2 linked regions of the Homo sapiens genome follow. The protein of the gene in region 2 purifies or fractionates together with the protein of the main gene of each other region. This does not show direct contact. Each region holds a gene or a part of one and is shown on either strand. Other genes may lie near its edges.

Region 1 (3,821 bases), about 150 Mb from region 2:
AGATAGGCTCCTTAATATGTAATAATTTTGATTAGAATATAGCAATATTTACAAGGATATTAAAGAAAACAAAATTATAGCTTTTCAGGACATGTTCAAAGCCTTTTCCTACACAAAATTTTTTAATTTTAGGAAATCAACATTAGAATAAGAACAATCTTAGACCCAAAACGGCCCACAGGTCAAGATTAACTATCTTTTAATTAAAGCTTTTAATTAAATCTGGCTCTTTACCACCCAATAAAGAGGGGTAAGGGGAAGCAAGTCGATTATAAGGAATAGTTCACTTACATATAAAACCCAGTAACATGGCCCTGTGGGCCACATTGTGCAGGGGTATTTTCTGCATGAGGCCATGCAGATTATCAGATACCGATATAGTTAGGATGTCTGTCCCCTCCAAGTCTCATGTTCAAATGTAATCCCCAACAGAGGAGGCAGGGCCTGTGGTAGGTGATTGGATCATGGGAATGGTTTAGTGCCATTCCCTTGGTGTTAAGCAAGTTCTCATTCAGTTAGTTCATATGAGATCTGGATGTTTAAAAGCATGTGGTACCTCCTTCCTCCCACCCTCACCATGTGACACTCCTGCTCCCCTTTGCCTTCAGCCATGACTGTAAACTTCCTCAGGTCCCCACTAGAAGCCAAGCAGATGTTGGTGCCATGCTTGTACAGCCTACAGAACAATGAACCAATTAAATCTCTTTTCTTTATAAATTACCCAGCTTCAGATAGTTCTTTAAAGCAAAGCAAGAACAAGCTAAAACAGATACTCTGGCCTTCAATTTCATGAACTAGGGCAGAAATGTTGTAGCTATGACTGAAATGATGCTAAGCCTATCAGAGGAATTAATTCTAAACATAGCAAAGAAAGGGAAAGGTTTAGAGCATAGGAACTGAAAAGCCATTTAGGCCAGAGGAATGAGGCGAACAAGTGGGGAGTGGAGAACTAATATATGACAGAAACATACATATCTTATTTAATGAAGACTCGAGGGAACATGTTATATATTGGGGATACAGAAATGTTTGTGTAAAATCAAGTATGTACAAGAGAAAGTATCAAATTAAGATAATTAAGTGGTAGTTGAAGGGTGGCAAAGAGGAATGGAAATTCAACGGAAGCATGCTTTGAAAGAAAATACATAAAAGCTTGGAACTGAGTCAAGGAAGCAATTCAGTGCCAATGTCTGGATGACTTACAAAGACAAAATGAAATTTGAATTACCTTTCGTGTAAAGTCCAGTTGCTTAGTAGCATCATCTAGTGATTGCATCAATGATAATTTTTCTTCCTATTCATAAAAATAATAAAATTACACAGTTTACAATGTAATCATCTATAGCCATGCTACTCAAAGTATAGCATCAGCATCATCCTGGAAGCCTGTTAGAAATGCAGATTCTTAGGCTCCATCTCAAATCTAAATCATTTTAACAAGATCCCCAGATAATTTAAAGTTTGACATGCACTGATCTATAGCATTTGACTAGAAAGACTCTAAAAACTCAAGCAGCATCCCTATGTTGTTTCCTTGTGCCATATAGCACTTTATAATTTTCAAGACATTTCCATATATCTTATCTCATTAAAGATGGGCTAGGGCCGGGCGCGGTGGCTCACGCCTGTAGTCCCAGCACTTTGGGAGGCCGAGGCGGGCGGATCACGAGGTCAGGAGATTGAGACCATCCTGGCTAAAACGGTGAAACCCCGTCTCTACTAAAAATACAAAAAATTAGCCGGGCGTAGTGGCGGGCGCCTGTAGTCCCAGCTAGTTGGGAGGCTGAGGCAGGAGAATGGCGTGAACCCGGGAGGCGGAGCTTGCAGTGAGCCGAGATCCCGCCACTGCACTCCAGCCTGGGCGACAGAGCGAGACTCCGTCTCAAAAAAAAAAAAAAAAAAAAAGATGGGCTAGATAGGGTAGCTATTTCCATACATGTCTACCAGTTGATGAAACCATGACAGAAGAGTTTAAGTGACCTGTCCAAAATCACACGATTGGTAAAAACCCTGAGACCTAAGCTTCTCAATTCCTGGTCCAGATCCATCCCGACTATACCTTGACTAAATAAGAAACAGTAAAATAAATTCGTTATATTTCATAAAACTTTATTTAGAAAACAAAAACTTATGGCAATGTATCTCTTCAATAATTTATCAAAGACCATTGATACTTATTTTGTTAAAAGAATAACTTAAATTTAAATCTTACCTTGCTACATTTCAAACAGCCTGCGAGAAATTTCTTTATCTCCACATCATTTCCAGGTAAAAGTTTTAGTGAGAGGTGTGTAAGATGCTTAAAAGGATTTGTCTCTACCACATTTAAAAATGCAGGTGAGTTATCCAAAATAGCTGCTGGAGAAACTAACTGTAGCAAAAACCTTTGAAAAGAAAATGTTACATTATAACACACTTAAGAGATAGTGAAAATCTCTCACTGAATCAGAAGCTTCTCTACTTAAGAAAGCTCAGGAAAGGGAGCACATTGAGGACTCCCAATGGTAAAAGATAAATTGGGCAAAAAAAAGAAAAGATTGACTGAAACACAGTGACTACATAAAAGTCCATGAGTTCATGAGAAACAAATGAGAGAAAAAGCAAAAACTAGAAACAAAAATTCACTGAGTGCCACAAAAGTAGACTACCAGCTCTTTACTCTAAAAATTGACAATTTAAATGCAAGAATTAAGCATTTATCCTTTATGAATTTTCTGAGTAATCAAATAGCCCTAATTGCTGAGGAAAAGTTCTTCTTTATAGAAGAATTATACTTAATATAGAAAAAATTATACAGAAGCATCATTTTGTTCTTCCTAATGAAATAACTGATTCAACAACAATCGTCAACTGATAAAACCAATAAATAAAAGGTTGATGGTGAACTTTACAGTAAAAGAATCAGGCGTTAGCACCATACACACATACAATCTTAGTCTTCCCTTTTTCCAATATCATTATAAAACCAAATATTTGATGCTGCTAAATATTTCGGATGACTTTAGTGCCTTTGTCAAGACATGAAAATTAAGAAATATTTCTGATTTTAATCAAGATGCCTTAAAGTCTGAGATTTAATGGAGGCCTAACCCCAGTTCTAAAAATAAACAGGGATAGTCATAATAAACGGAAAAGATTTTGCCATCAACTTGTGTTTCAAAGAAGAGTCTGTCTTGAATTAAATTTAATAATGTAGCATTCTCATGCAACTTACCTTGGAATTTCTTTGGCATGTTCTTGAGTACATTGCTGAAGGAGATCTATAAATTTTTGTGGGAAAGCTAAGAAGTCTACCAGAAGACCTTGCTGGAATTTTAAACTATACAGAAGAAAGGAAAAGAAATTTTTTAAAAATTTTAATTAACTTTGTTTTGTTTTGGTGCCTTTTTTTTTTTTTTTTTTTTTGAGATAGAGGCTCACTCCATCACCCAGGCTGGAGTGCAGTGGTGCAATCTTGGCTCACTGCAACCTCTGCCTCCCAGGTTCAAGAGATTCTCCTTCCTCAGCCTCCTGAGTAGCTGGGATTACAGGCACATGCCACCATACCTGGCTAATTTTTGTATTTTTAGTTAAGACAGGGTTTCACCATGTTGGTCAGACTAGTCTCGAACTTCTGACCTCATGATCCGCCCTCTTCGGCCGCCCAAAGTGCTGGGATTACAGGCGTGAGCCACCGTGCCTGGCCAATTACTATCTTTAATTATAATTAGCATCCTGAAGGATTCTTTTTTCAAATTTACTAACGCTTGTTATAATCAAGAACTAAGCTAAGGAACTCTGATTTTTATAGAACGTATTCAATGGGAAAAAAAATCAATAAA
Region 2 (4,315 bases):
GCTCCATGGATTGGCTGGAGTGGCATCACCTGGGAACTTGTTAGAAAGGCAAAATATTGATCCCAGTTTGAAAGAGTCAGAATCTGCATTTTAACAGGATCCTCGGGTGATTTGCTTACATGAGAAAGTTTGGGAAGCAGCACTTTGGTACATAGGTTGTCACATACGAATTAGATAAATCATAAATCTGAAATGGGGTGTGTGACATTCCTGCTTGTAATATATTTTTCTCATGTTTATAATCGATAAATAAACAATACAAAACTTATAAATAATGATAAAGCACTCCAGACTCCTGAGTTCTGCTGCTGGTTAACAGTCAATTAAACTTCCTCAGTCCTGATTTCCTCATTGGGAGAAAAAAAGAGTTGGAATAGGTGAGCATATAGTTTCTGATTTCAGCAAATAGATTTTGTGTTGGTTGGAAGCTGAAGAAAATCAACCACCTGTGGTATAAATCCTTCGGCAGGAGACATCATGAATAAGCGATTTCAGTCTCCTGACAGCCACGGCTCAGAGTCAGCTGTTAGCTGATCTCCTGCCGCTGATATTGTGGCCTCGAAATTATCACTAGAACCAGCTTGTGCTTTGTGGCTCTGGTGGGCAGCCTAGGGGAGGAAGTGGGGGACCAGATGCTGGCAACAGGTCTTCCAGGCCCTGCATTTTCCCCATTGTCATGTTAGTCTTTGAGCTGACAACCAGAACAATGGCTTCTTAACCTACCCCAAATAATTTTGATAACCTTCTATTCTCATCCTTTTTTTTCCTTTTTCTTTCCCATCTTGTCTTTGAAAGTATCAGACCTCTGAGGAAAGGCTATTGACATTTGATCTGATTATCGTTGCTAGAGCCACAAAGAGAAATTTTATTTCTAACGTTGTTTTTTTCTTTTCCCCAAGAAGAGGCTTTCTCTTTGTATGTTTGGAAGAGGACAACATATTTGGAATCTTGAGATCTCAGATCTCTGTAATGAGCAGTTTGCCTAAGAAATCATGAATCCAGATTAATCACTTTTATTCCAGCAAAAATGCAACTCTCTTATTGCATTGTGTAATCTTATTATTATGCTCACTTCGGAGGAATAGGGAAGTCCTTACCTTGTTTCGTCTTGCAATACTAGAATTTCCTTGAAAGCAAAGTGAACCTGGAGTGATAGATTCACTTTCATGTTTCAGCCTGATTTTTTCCCACTGTATGCCCACGCGTGTGTGTATGAGTGTGTGTGTGTGCGTGCAGGCACACACACGCACACTCACATTTTCCTTTCTGCCTCCCCTTTCGAGCTCTTCCTGCCTTCTCTATCATGCGCAGGCCCCTGGCAGCTCGTGGTTGGCAAGAGCACGAACCCGTGGTCAGATGCAACGTCCTGCCTCATGCATTTTCCTCTTGGTGCTTTGGTCAGAACTTCCCCAAGTGGAGTGAAACTCAGGAGCTGAGAAACCGAGTCACTGTGAAAAGATGGGAAATTATCTCCTGCGAAAACTCAGGTGAGTCTTGACTCTTGGTGCCGCCTTTCTTGGGAGAAAGAGAACAGAGATAAGGAGGCTGGACATAACGCATTTGTAATGGTGAGGTACATTGTGCTTCTAGAAGGTTAAGCCTGAAGACAGCATCCTCTAGGAGCACACAGTGACGCCCAGTTGGCTCCTTCTCTTGCCTTACTCTGGAACAATGATAGGTTGCCAGATGTAGAAAACAAAAATACTGGATGCTAAGTCACATTCAAATTCCAGAAAAACATTTTTTTTTTTAGTATGAATGTGCCTCATATAATATTTTGGGCATTATAACATGGGTTGTACTTTACTAAAAAGTTATTCATTGTTTATCTGAAATTCAAATTTAGCAGTGCATCTTGTATTTCATCTGGCAACCCTACACAATTGTCACTTGAATTTTCCTGCTTCTCTTTTTCTTCATGTGGGTGTAGAGCTTAACTTTCCATCCATCAGCTTCGTGGGTTGGTATGAGAATGAACAGTTAGGTCCTTGCAAATTATGGATGCGGGATATGCATTTGAATGCCTTTGACTTTAGTCACACCTTTTTTGGTAATGTTTAGCCTTACACTCTTCCAATACTTCATAATTTATAGAATGTGTACAGATAACAGGCATTATTGTTCTTACATCTTGCTTAATCTTAAATGATGGGCTCTACAGCATCCCACTCCTCTGTCCGCTCTCCCAGTCCCCTTCCAGACAATCTTGCATATGACGTGACTACATTGATAGACCCAAGGCAAAACTCTCATCATATCGCTCCTGTGCTCCAGTGGGTACCATGTAGAAATATGACTGGACAAAAAGGGTATGACCTAACGCTAATAGACGGAGTGGAAAATCCCAGCAAGTCTTGTTCTGTCTGTTTAGATTCTTCTTGACCTCTCTGTGCAGCGTTCCTTACTTACGGGTATGGGGCAGAGGACTCTCTGGAATGGGGGCTTATGACCTACAGTCAAACAAAGTAGGTCAGAGAAGCTGTCTTTATGAGGCAGCAGATTGGCTTCCCCACACCTGATGGTTCATACCGTCTCCTTTCACCAGGTTAAATAGTTCAGCTGTCCCTTGATGTCTTCATTTAGTCTTTCAGTAAATTGCTATTTGTTAAAGAGCTTAAGGGTGGCTGGGCACGGTGGCTCATGTCTGTAATCCCAGCACTTTGGGAGGCCGAGGCGGGTGGATCACGAGGTCAGGAGATCGAGACCATTCTGGCTAACACGGTGAAACTCCGTCTCTACTAAAAATACAAACAATTAGCCGGGCGTGGTGGTGGGCACCTGTAATCCCAGCTACTCGGCAGGCTGGGGCAGGAGAATGGCGTGAACCCGGGAGGCGGAGCTTGCAGTGAGCCGAGATCCCGCCACTGCACTCCAGCCTGGGCGACAGAGCAAGACTCTGTCTCAAATAAACAAACAAACAAAAAAAAATGCTTAAGGGTTCATGGATGGAGAAGGGCCATCAAAGTTCAGGATGAGCATGAGTCTGGGCAGTAGATGGAGGACAAATGACACAATTGTGCTGAGAGGTAAATTCAATTATTTACCCTAAAGAAAAAATGTTTCCCTTCTTTTAAAGTTAAGCAATATTTATGGAAAGCCTAGGTAAGACAATGGTCTTGGTCGCAAGAAAAAATTAAACATGGAAGGAAAATGGATATGGAAGCAAATTTTAAAAATGGATAGGCCCCTTCAGAGAACATCGTACTTAATCACTCTGACTCAGCTTTAAAAAAATAGACATTACGTGGCTCAGATAATTAAAATTGAGAGAGAATTAAAACTTGTCAAGGTTGCCTTTGCTATAAAATTATGAATCTTACATGTAATTTATGATGTCAAGTCATCCGTCATTTCCATTACACCACAATGGCTTCTTTTTAAGATAAGGCAGGTGCTAATGTGTTCTAGGCAGAAGCACAAACAGCGCACTGTAGAAATAAAAGGAAGGAAGGAAGGGAATTCTGGTTTGGGATAGCAGGAAGGAAGGACATGCTTGAGGAATTGCCATTTGGATTGTGCTGTAAATGTTAGGCAGACTTACAAAGCAGGAAAAGATGGTCCAAGCTGAAGGGACAACCTGTGAAAATGTATGAGTTTCAAGTGTATGGTATTACTGTCAATAATTGGAGCATATTGTTCAGAGATGACTCCAGTAGCAGAAGAAGTTGAGAATGAAGCTGGGGGTCTGATAATGAAGGGCCTTCAAAGGCACGTAGAAAGTGGTAAGCAGTGAACATTTATAAGCTGGAGAAAAATGCAATGTGGCATGTATTTTAGGAAGAAATGTCTATGCTCAGTGAGTATGGAGGAATGACACAGAGAGAAATAGACAATAAGCTCTTAAAATATACCAAAGAAGATGCAGGGGCAAAAGGAAAACTTCCCCTTTGCTCCCTGAAGGTTCTCTGAAATCAGCTGAGAAAAGGCAGATTAATAGGACAAAAGGCAAATTTATTGATCATCGTTTTATGTGACACAGGAACCTCAGAATGAAGACCCAAAGATGCAAAGGAAACTGTCCATTTCTATGCTTAGGTTCAACAAATTTTGGATAGCCATGTGGAAATATGATTGGACAAAAAGGATATGACCTAATGCTAATAGACAGAGTGGAAAATCCCAGCAAGTCTTGTTCTGTCTGTTTAGATTCTTCTCGACCTCTCTGTACAGCATTCCTTACTTATGAGTATGGGGCAGAACACTCTCTGGAATGGGGGCTTATGACCTACAGTCAGACAAAGTAGGTCAGATAATGTCTTTATGGCTGGTTCTTACACAGAAAGATACAGGGAAAGTTAGAGTCATCTTACTAATT

Evidence for each region.
Region 1: the proteins of GCSAML (region 2) and SASS6 purify together in Homo sapiens (affinity purification with mass spectrometry; one large-scale study listed by BioGRID and IntAct). This does not show direct contact.

What each region holds. Positions count from the first base shown.
Region 1 is NC_000001.11:100,119,166-100,122,986, forward strand, and holds part of SASS6 (spindle assembly abnormal protein 6 homolog), read right to left. Parts: intron 3,320-3,821; coding exon 3,215-3,319; intron 2,385-3,214; coding exon 2,213-2,384; intron 1,295-2,212; coding exon 1,229-1,294; intron 1-1,228.
Region 2 is NC_000001.11:247,547,734-247,552,048, forward strand, and holds the start of GCSAML (germinal center-associated signaling and motility-like protein), read left to right. Parts: upstream 1-1,400; 5' UTR 1,401-1,458; coding exon 1,459-1,487; intron 1,488-4,315.